Linked DNA regions of Homo sapiens: region 1 is linked to region 2. Evidence: fine-mapped expression QTL. A gene starts in region 2. The other region holds a variant in brackets. All regions are shown on one strand. Distances are between the middles of the regions. Region 1 overlaps LINC00886 (long intergenic non-protein coding RNA 886). Region 2 holds the start of LEKR1 (leucine, glutamate and lysine rich 1).

Region 1 (4,395 bases), 50 kb after region 2:
TTGCATATTATTAAGAGGTCAAGTAAAATGAGAATGAAGAAAAAGCCACTGCATTTGATATGGCTTTTTTGGGGATTTTTGGTGATTTTGACAAGATCAATTTCAGTGGCATCCTGGCAACTGAAGCCAGAATGAAGTGGGTTGAGATTGAATGGATTCAATGCAATTCTAGTAAAAATCCAAATAGGATATTCATTTAAAATCAGCAGACTGATTCTAAAATGCGTATGTTGTCTTGTGATCCACTACCTATACCCATCTTAAGGTACCATTGTGACACCATGTCAACACAGGGCTTCTCTGAGGAGCAGGTATTTCGAACAGGCTGCAGCTGGGGGATTGAGGAATACACTTTTTGTTCTGGGATTTCTTGCTAAATGTCTTAGGATGTTTTCACATCCTTATACACACTCCTTCAACCCAACCAGGTTTAGCCCAGAGGTGGAGTGCAGAAATGAACACAGTGACAACACTAGAATTTTACATTGTGGTTGGTTCCTCCTCAGCTGCTGAAGGCTTTTCTTTTGTCCTGTGAGAAAGAAACTTACCTTATATCCTATCCTGTGTATCCCTACTCTGGATACTGAGAATAAACTTTGGTTTTCATTTCTCCTCTTGATAAAACTTTGGAGTTTGAATCAATCTTTCTGTCTCAAAAAGTCAGACTTCTGCAAGCCAAAAGAGCTTGCCCTTGGGATATTTTGTATCCCTAGAGACTTAAAAAACTGTTTTGAAATTCAAAAATCTAAGCAATGACCTCTTTGTTCTATGCTGTATCAAATATAGTACTTTGCTTTTCTATGATAAAAAGCCTCAGAATCTATCTGTTTTTAATGGCTGTAAGGTTGAAAAAACTCCTGAAATTACTGAAAAGGAAAAATACAATGAGATTTTTAAAAATATTATCCTGCTTTCCTCTTAACATGGAATTCCCTGCCCCTCAGAACACAAGGTCCCTTTCTATAGTTTCAATTGTACTTCTCGATAGTTCCCCAATTTATTTCGTATTCCAGCTACAACTGCTTTCAGTACATGTAATTCCCAAGAGCACCAAGCACTTGGATGGCATCATGTCTTTGCACATGTGGTTCCCTTCTGCCTGAAATGCCCTTCCTTAAGCCAGCCTCCTCACTTTAAAAGATTTTAAACTCTTGTGCTAGAGATTAAGCTATTTTCTGTCATCTCCAAACCCACCTTTGTCTACCTTGTTTTGTGATGCTGGGGTTGGGACTATGCAAACCACCTTTCTCTTTTGCCAGCAGAATTCCTTTTGGTTTCTGTCTGTGTGGGACACTAAAGAAAGACCATGAGGCAAGAGAGGATGAAGGGACTCGTTCCTTTCTATTTGCTTGCTGTTCCTGTCCATGTTACCCACTAATGACCCTTCATCCTGACAGCAGCCGCTGTTTCCAGTATCCAGCTTCTTGGCACTCTCATAACCAGGTTTCATCCCACCTTCCTCAGAAACACAAGCACTACCAGCTAATGTCCCCTTCCCTGAGGTCTGAGTCTTATGTCTATGAGGATGTCTTCAAGCTTCTAAATTCAGATAACCCCAATCTCTTCCTTTTGCTTACTCAGACCTAGGGGGATGCAGCTGCTTCCTCAAGTTACTGCCTCTGTGAAACCTCAGTGTGCCCATTGTGCCTTTTTAGTTCTCCAGACCTGGTTAACCAATTCCCTATATTAAATTTTCTTGGTTGAATTTTTTTTTTTTTTTTGAGACAGTCTCGCTCTGTTGCCCAGGCTGGAGTACATTGGTGCAATCTTGGCTCACTGCAACCTCCACCTCCCAGGTTCAAGCAATTCTCTGCCTCAGCCTCCCAAGTAGCTGGGATTATAGGCACACGCTACCACACCTGGCTAATTTTTTTTTTTTGAGACGGAGTCTCGCTCTGTCACCCAGGCTGGAGTGCAGTGGTGTGATCTCAGCTCACTGCAAGCTCTGCCTCCCGGGTTCAAGCCATTCTCCTGCCTCGGCCTCCCAAGTAGCTG[G/A]GACTACAGGCACCCGCCACCACGCCTGGCTAATTTTTTGTATTTTTAGTAGAGACGGGGTTTCACCATGTTGGTCAGGCTGGTCTTGAACTCCTGACCTTGTGATCCACCTGCCTCGGCCTCCCAAAGTGCTGGGATTACAGGCATGAGCCACTGCCCCTGGACTCTTTGTTGAAATTTTTAATGTGTTTTTTGTTTTCCAGACTTATAATCATTCTCTATTAAGACTATCTAAGCCATTTTGTTCACTCTCTGCCAAAGCATTTGTTTCTGTGCACCTTGCAGAGGGCTCCTTTGAAGTGCTTATCATACTGTATTAGTATTTTCTTAGATGACAGTATCCTAACACTAGATTGTTAGGGCTCAGAGATAGAAATCGTATTTTATTTATTTTTACATCACCTGTGTTCATCAAAGTGAGTACAAACTCAGTAAGTGATCCTTAAATTAAATGAATTAATGAATATATGACTTAAATGAACAAATGAATTAATGAATATATGAATATGAATGTATTCAATTAATTAAGGAAAACATAACTGTATACATAGATTAGTCATGCATTATATCCTGTTTAAACTTAAAATGGCAACTCTTTATATACGGAATAAATTCCAAGGCCCCTTTAATTTGGCTCCTGCCTGCCTTTCCATCTCTCTCCTACCTCTTTCATCCCAGTCATACTGAATGGATTAGAGCTTCCAGAATACACCCCCACACCTTTGTCCTCACCATCGTTTCTTCCTGAAATGCTTATTCATGTCTAATTCCTCTAGCATATCGCAAGCTATTTGAAGTACTCCTTTATTTCCATCACCCAGAAGAGTTCTATAATATAGTAGATACTTAATGTGTAATTATTAAGTAAGCATTTCCATATTGCTGCAGTTTCCATAATGATCCCTTTTGATCTTTGCATGTATTTTATGTAGGTTATATGCCATGGCTTACTTAATCACCACTTTATTATTGGATATTAAGATAGTTTCCAATGTTCACTACTATAATTAATTCAAGAGAGCACTTTTTGTACAAGTGCTTGTTTGGTTGTAAAGAGAGTTACAATTTTTTTTCTTAAAAGAAGGATAGAGCATGAGGTTTATTTTTAAACAAAAAAAAAAATTTTTATGTTTCTCAGTTCATGTCAGTGATAGCAGGCCTAAGTCTAGGGGATACTTCTGAGGCCATCATGTTTTTAGAAGGCCAGTGACATAATCTGACTTACAATAATTTAAAATATTTCCTTAATGACTTGCAAATCAAGATGCCAATGTCCAAGTATTCCAGATGCCAGTCTACATGCTTGAACTTTCATTGTCTCCAGCTTCTCTTTGAGTACACAGAGGTAGAATCCAAATAGGTGGCATTTGACTTTGGGAGTGGAGGGGTATAGATTTGAGGAATAGAAATTAAAATAGAACTTAAATTACCATCGTCAAATCATATGAAAGCTCTTTTTACTCTCTTCATTTGGTAACCTCTGGAAAATAAAGGAATACCTTGGTACATAAAACAGAAGCACTCATGAAAATTTGTCTTAAGTAGAAGTAAGTTCTTCTATTGCACTTTGTTTTCCTAATTGTATTTCATTTGGCAATTGGAGATGTGTTTCCAACTGTGACATGAAGTCCAGCCCATTATCCTTTTCTAAGGTGTTTTCTTACTACATAGTTTCAAATAGGCTTAGAATTTCCAAATTGAAGAAGGGAGAGAAGTAGATTTAAAAAAAAAAAAGAGAGAGAGATTAAGAGGAGAGTGGTGTAAGCCTAAAATGAACTTCACTTTTAGCTTTGGGACATAGACCTTTCTAGACCTGTTTCCTCATCTATAAATTGAGTAGAAGATCCCCAAGGACCTCCCTAACTCTGAATTTCCATGACTTTACATGTTTTAGTCCTAAAAAATACTCAAACCTCAACTAAGCTCAAATGAGATTTTGACTTTCCTGAGTCTCAAGAACAAACAGCGTAGCCTAACTCCCTTGCAGGTGTAAGTCATCTTGCATTCCCTTCTCCAGATCAAACGAAAAAATAACCCAAAGAATTTAACTGCTGTGACTTCTCAGGAAACCTTTCCCTACTTCATTCGTTATGATTTGTATGTTCTCCTTCTTCCAAATCTATGTGGAATCTGACTTGAACTCATTTTGCACTCTTTGTTGACATAAACTTCTGAAATAAATCTCTTACACCCTGCAAAAGACAATTTTGCCCAGTTTAATTTAATGGAAGTGAATGACCCCTCCTTGCAACTTCTCAAGACTGTTTTTAATTTTATATTGTTGCTGTTGTCTAACCTAGAGTTAAAGAATATCCACTTCAGTTTGAAGAAGATACTCTAGGCCATTTGACATGTCTCTGGCTCAGTTTGCAGATAATAAAAGAATTACTGTCTCCTCTG
Region 2 (4,395 bases):
TGTCTTCCCACATAAAACATAATATGACATGTGTGGTAAAGTTAACTGAGGTCTGCAATGGAGGTACCATTAACCATGTCAACATAAGCCCAAACATAATCTGATGTTTGGCAGATTGTCATAATCATGTGGCAAGAGCCCAGAAGGCTCATTATTCTCATTTCTGTCATTTAATGGTGGATTTGCCATCAGTAAAATGAAATAGTAACTTCAACTCTATTGGGAGAATTTTCCAAAAAATTACCATCTAAACATCCTTTTAAAATTTCACCCATAAAGTTATCTGAGAGCACGGATCTAAATGACAGTATAAACAAAGCACCAGTAGAACAGTTTTTGTGTAGTGCCTTCATTGTCTGTGAATCTATTCCAACTTTATGGCCTTAGCATAAGAAGGGGAGGAATTGGCAGGTTCTGATTATCGGGGGGAAACTAAAAATTAAAAGTCCTGCCAACCCAGAAAATGCTCCACAATGCAGAAAGACAACAATTTTATTAGGCATTCAACTAGACTTTGATGCACATCACGGCTAATCTGCTAATGAGGTTACAAAGAGAGAAGGAAATCCCTCTTTTATACAGCCAAGGAGACACAATCCATTACACATTCTCAAGGAAACTGGTAACGTGTCCTCATGTAAGAGGGCTTAACATAGTGTTCTATACATTCTTTTATATTTCCTCTTTAATTCATCTGGTAATTGGGGTAACCACCTGTGTTAGCTAACGGCTTTCCTCCTAAGTAATGCACAGCTCCATAACGAAACAGGTGTTTACAATTAGGAATAACGCACCTAGGTTAAACTCCCAAAGTGACAAGGAGACTGGGGCCCTATCTTCCTTGATGTTTACATTTTAAAGAAATGGCTTCCAGGTCCTCAAGAAAAGCATTCCTAGGTCTTTAAAAACATTTGCATACATATTAAATAGAGGAAGCATTCACAAATACTAAGTTTCTCAAGAAAAAAGAAGGGTCTTTCCCTTTTGGCAACAGGGAAAATCTGTAATTTTTTAAATTTAGTCTTACATAGTTTTGCGTGTGTTATCAAACAAGTCCCTTTAATCCTTTCTCATTGCACGTATGTGGACCGCACTTTGGCAAGAGGTGCAGTGATAAGTGGCTGCAGCTACGTGGGTGTTTGTGAACCTCCTCTCTAACAAGATCACCGAAAAGACATTTTTTAAAATGCAGACACGTCCTTGTTCGTTTCCAATTCCGTTTCTCACACTAGTGTCACGTCAGGCCATTAACTCACGTTCAGCTTTCAAGCCCTTACGTAAAGAACCATTCCCATGGCGTGAATCACCCACAACGAGCAGGTCAGGGGCAGGTGAAGGCGGGAGTTCACATCCTAAGACTTTCCTGAAGCGGCAGGCTCTTCCACACAGAAACCAACCGCAAGGCCAGACAAAACTGCTGGAATGGCTTTCAAATCTGTCCCTTTCTAACCCCGTTCCCCCTGGACCTGCAGTGGCCGGAAGAGGAGGAGGAGGAGGGTGCGGGGGTGAGGAAGCAGAGCCGCGCGTTCCCCGGGGCTGGGAGGAAGGCGGACCGCGCCTGGGCCCCGCGGGCTGGCAGACACCAGGAAGGGGCCGCAGAGGAGCGTGGTGGCGGAGTCCAGACCCGGGGCCTCGTGCTCTCGCTGGGGCGCCGCGGCTCAGCTTTCTGGCTCTCTCCCCGGGTGCGAGCACGCCTCCACTCCGGAACTGCATTTGGAGGACCGGGTCATCCCAGGCTGAGGAAAGCCATCGTCCCTCACCTCGACTTCGACTAGGACGGGTGTGAAACGGCTTTCCCGGTCTCCCGGGCGACCGCGCCGCCAGTCGGCTGGACGTCAGGGCGCGGCGACGTCACGGCCCACGTCTGTCGTCAACGCTCCCCTGCACCGCCCAGGGTCTCACGCGCCGGGCGGAAGTGGGAAAACTGGTGGTGGGGCTCGGAAGGCTGGGCTAGTCTTACGCGGAATGCTGTGAGAGGGAGGGAAGGGGATCGAGGGATGAGGTGGGCGAGAGTGGGTCGGGTGCTTGGTAGCGACTGCTGAGATGGAGGGAGCTGTCCCAGCCTCGTGGGGGGTTGGAGAGAGGCACTGCCGGGAGTCGGGAGTCGGGAGCCTATAGCCCTACCTATCACCCCTTGCTCTGGGGCCTATGTGGTAGACACAGCAGTGAGCAGTTACTGTTCTTGAGCAGAGGAAAAAGAGATGCCTGTAGAGGTCATGGGTGTAAAGGGAAGTTCTGGTTTCAGTCATTACAGCCAGGACAAATTAATTGGGAAGGCGTTGGTGACATTTCCATTCTAGTCCAAAGTAGTGAAGATTAAGGGCTTAGTTCAAAAAGTATTTTGAGACCTCCTAGTCTACACTTTATTTATCGCAGGCTACCCACCCTTACACGTGACTAACTTCCCTTTGTTCATACATTCATTCATAAAACAAGTATTTATAGACCTACTACGCGACAAGCAGAGCAGCATACCGAGATAGGGTGATACTCTGTGACTGGTCAAGGCAGGAGCAGCCATTGGTGTAATTAGCAGGTGACTCATTCGTAGTCCAGATCTTGCCTTTCTGAGGATTATATAAGGTCGAAGTACAGTTCTTCCAAGAACCAAAGAAAACATCGATGGCTCTGTAGCAGGCAAAGAGACTGGTTTGCTATTGAATAAAATAAGATTAAGTAAATACAAAGAAAATTAATTGAACCTATAGATTTAGAGAAGTGATTAAATGACGCAGAGCAGTATCGGTACACCAAACTGCTTATTGATAACTACTAATTAATGACACCAGGAAGTACTGAACACTAGTGCCTTGTTCCTTGGCACTAAAAAGTCTAGTAGATGTGGCTGGGCGCGGTGGCTCGGGCCTGTAATTCCAGCACTTTGGGAGGCCAAGGCGGGCAGATCACAAGGTCAGGAGATCGAGATCATCCTGGCTAACACGGTGAAACCCCGTCTCTACTAAAAATACAAAAAAGTAGCCGGGCGTGGTGGCGGGCGCCTGTAGTCCCAGCTACTTGGGCTACTCGGGAGGCTGAGGCAGGAGAATGGCGTGAACCTGGGAGGCAGAGCTTACCCTGAGCCGAGATAATGCCACTGCACTCCAGCCTGGGCGACAGACCAAGACTCAGTCTCAAAAAAAAAAAAAAAAAAAAAAGTCTAGTAGATGTATCTTGTACATTTAACCTGACTGATATTTTTGCCCCAATGCCTACCCTTGATTTTCTGTTTCCACTCCCTCAAAGAAGAAAGGATTAAGAGGCCTAGAGGACAGTCAACCAAGTGGTCAACTATAACATGCTTATGAGAAGCCCAAATAACTTTCAGAGCTATTCATCCTCGTCATATTTATCTGAGAGATAGTGAGGGTAGGACTGCTCTCATTTTGTGATAATGGAAGTTTAGATACAGGGCACCAAAACTGGTACCTATCTGGGACAGGAATTTGCACACCTAATGCAAGATCACTCTGTTCTGAGGCTAGTTTTCTTTATTGAGTACTTTGTTTATAGGATAAGGAAAGGCAACACTTTAAGGATGGGAGAAAATCCAGCTCAAAGGCTGCAGTTCACTCCTTGGTTTAATTTCATCTGTGTTTATTTGTCTGCATATTGCCTTTGAGACCAATTTCCTTTCCACTGTAAATTTCCCTTAGACCTGCACTGTCCAGTAAGGTGGCCTCATGTAACTAATTTCACTAAAATGAAGTATGTTTAAAAATTCCATTGCTATATTGCATTAGCCATATTTTAAGTACTCAGTAGTCATGTAGGTAATGTATGATACACCATAGATACTGAACATTTTCATTATCATAGAAAGTTGGGCTGGGCGTGGTGGTTCATGCCTATAATCCCAGAGCTTTGGCAGGCTGAGGCAGGAGGATCTCTTGAAGCCAGGAGTTTGAGACTGGCCTGGGCAATATAGTGAGACTCTGTCACTATAAAAAAAAAAAAAATTAGCATGGTGTGGTGACACACACCTGTAGTCTTTACTCAGAAAGGCCTAGGTGAGAGGATCACTTGAGCCCAGGAATTTGAGGCTGCAGTCTATGATCTGGCCACTGCACTCCAGTCTAGGTGACAGAGCCCGACCCTGTCTCTTAAAAAAAGAAAACAAAGAAAAAGAAAGTTGGAAAGCAGTAGACCCCAGTAAGAATTTCAAAGGATAAGAGTTAAGTTGTGATGAATGACATTTTTTAAAGCGTAGCAGCAAAAAGTGTTATTCCTGAAAGAAGATAGTGCAAAGGAAGTGTTGTGACAAGATGTTACAAAATAGGTTTAAGAAAAAAAAAAAAGCCACGAATCCTGTGCCCTATGTTGGTGTTTTGTCTTGGTCTCTCCCTTTTCAGGTTTCTCACTTGCCCTCCCTCTGTCTTCCCACCCCATTACTGTCCA

Evidence for each region. PIP is the estimated chance that this variant, and not a neighbour inherited with it, causes the effect. A credible set is the group of variants that fine-mapping cannot tell apart.
Region 1: its variant is the best candidate, but not a certain one, in a credible set for the expression of LEKR1 in prefrontal cortex (BrainSeq, PIP 0.86).

What each region holds. Positions count from the first base shown.
Region 1 is chr3:156,773,403-156,777,797 of GRCh38, reverse strand. All of the region lies in intron 1 of LINC00886 (long intergenic non-protein coding RNA 886), which reads left to right. Among named protein-coding and RNA genes, the nearest start is that of LINC00886, 41 kb to the left of the region's middle. The variant G/A (reference allele first, on the strand shown) is at 1,996.
Region 2 is chr3:156,823,742-156,828,136 of GRCh38, reverse strand. It overlaps LEKR1 (leucine, glutamate and lysine rich 1), which reads right to left and starts at 1,784. Exons shown (of 13, transcript NM_001004316.3): 1 at 1,761-1,784. RefSeq lists a silencer at 643-937 and an enhancer at 1,252-1,311.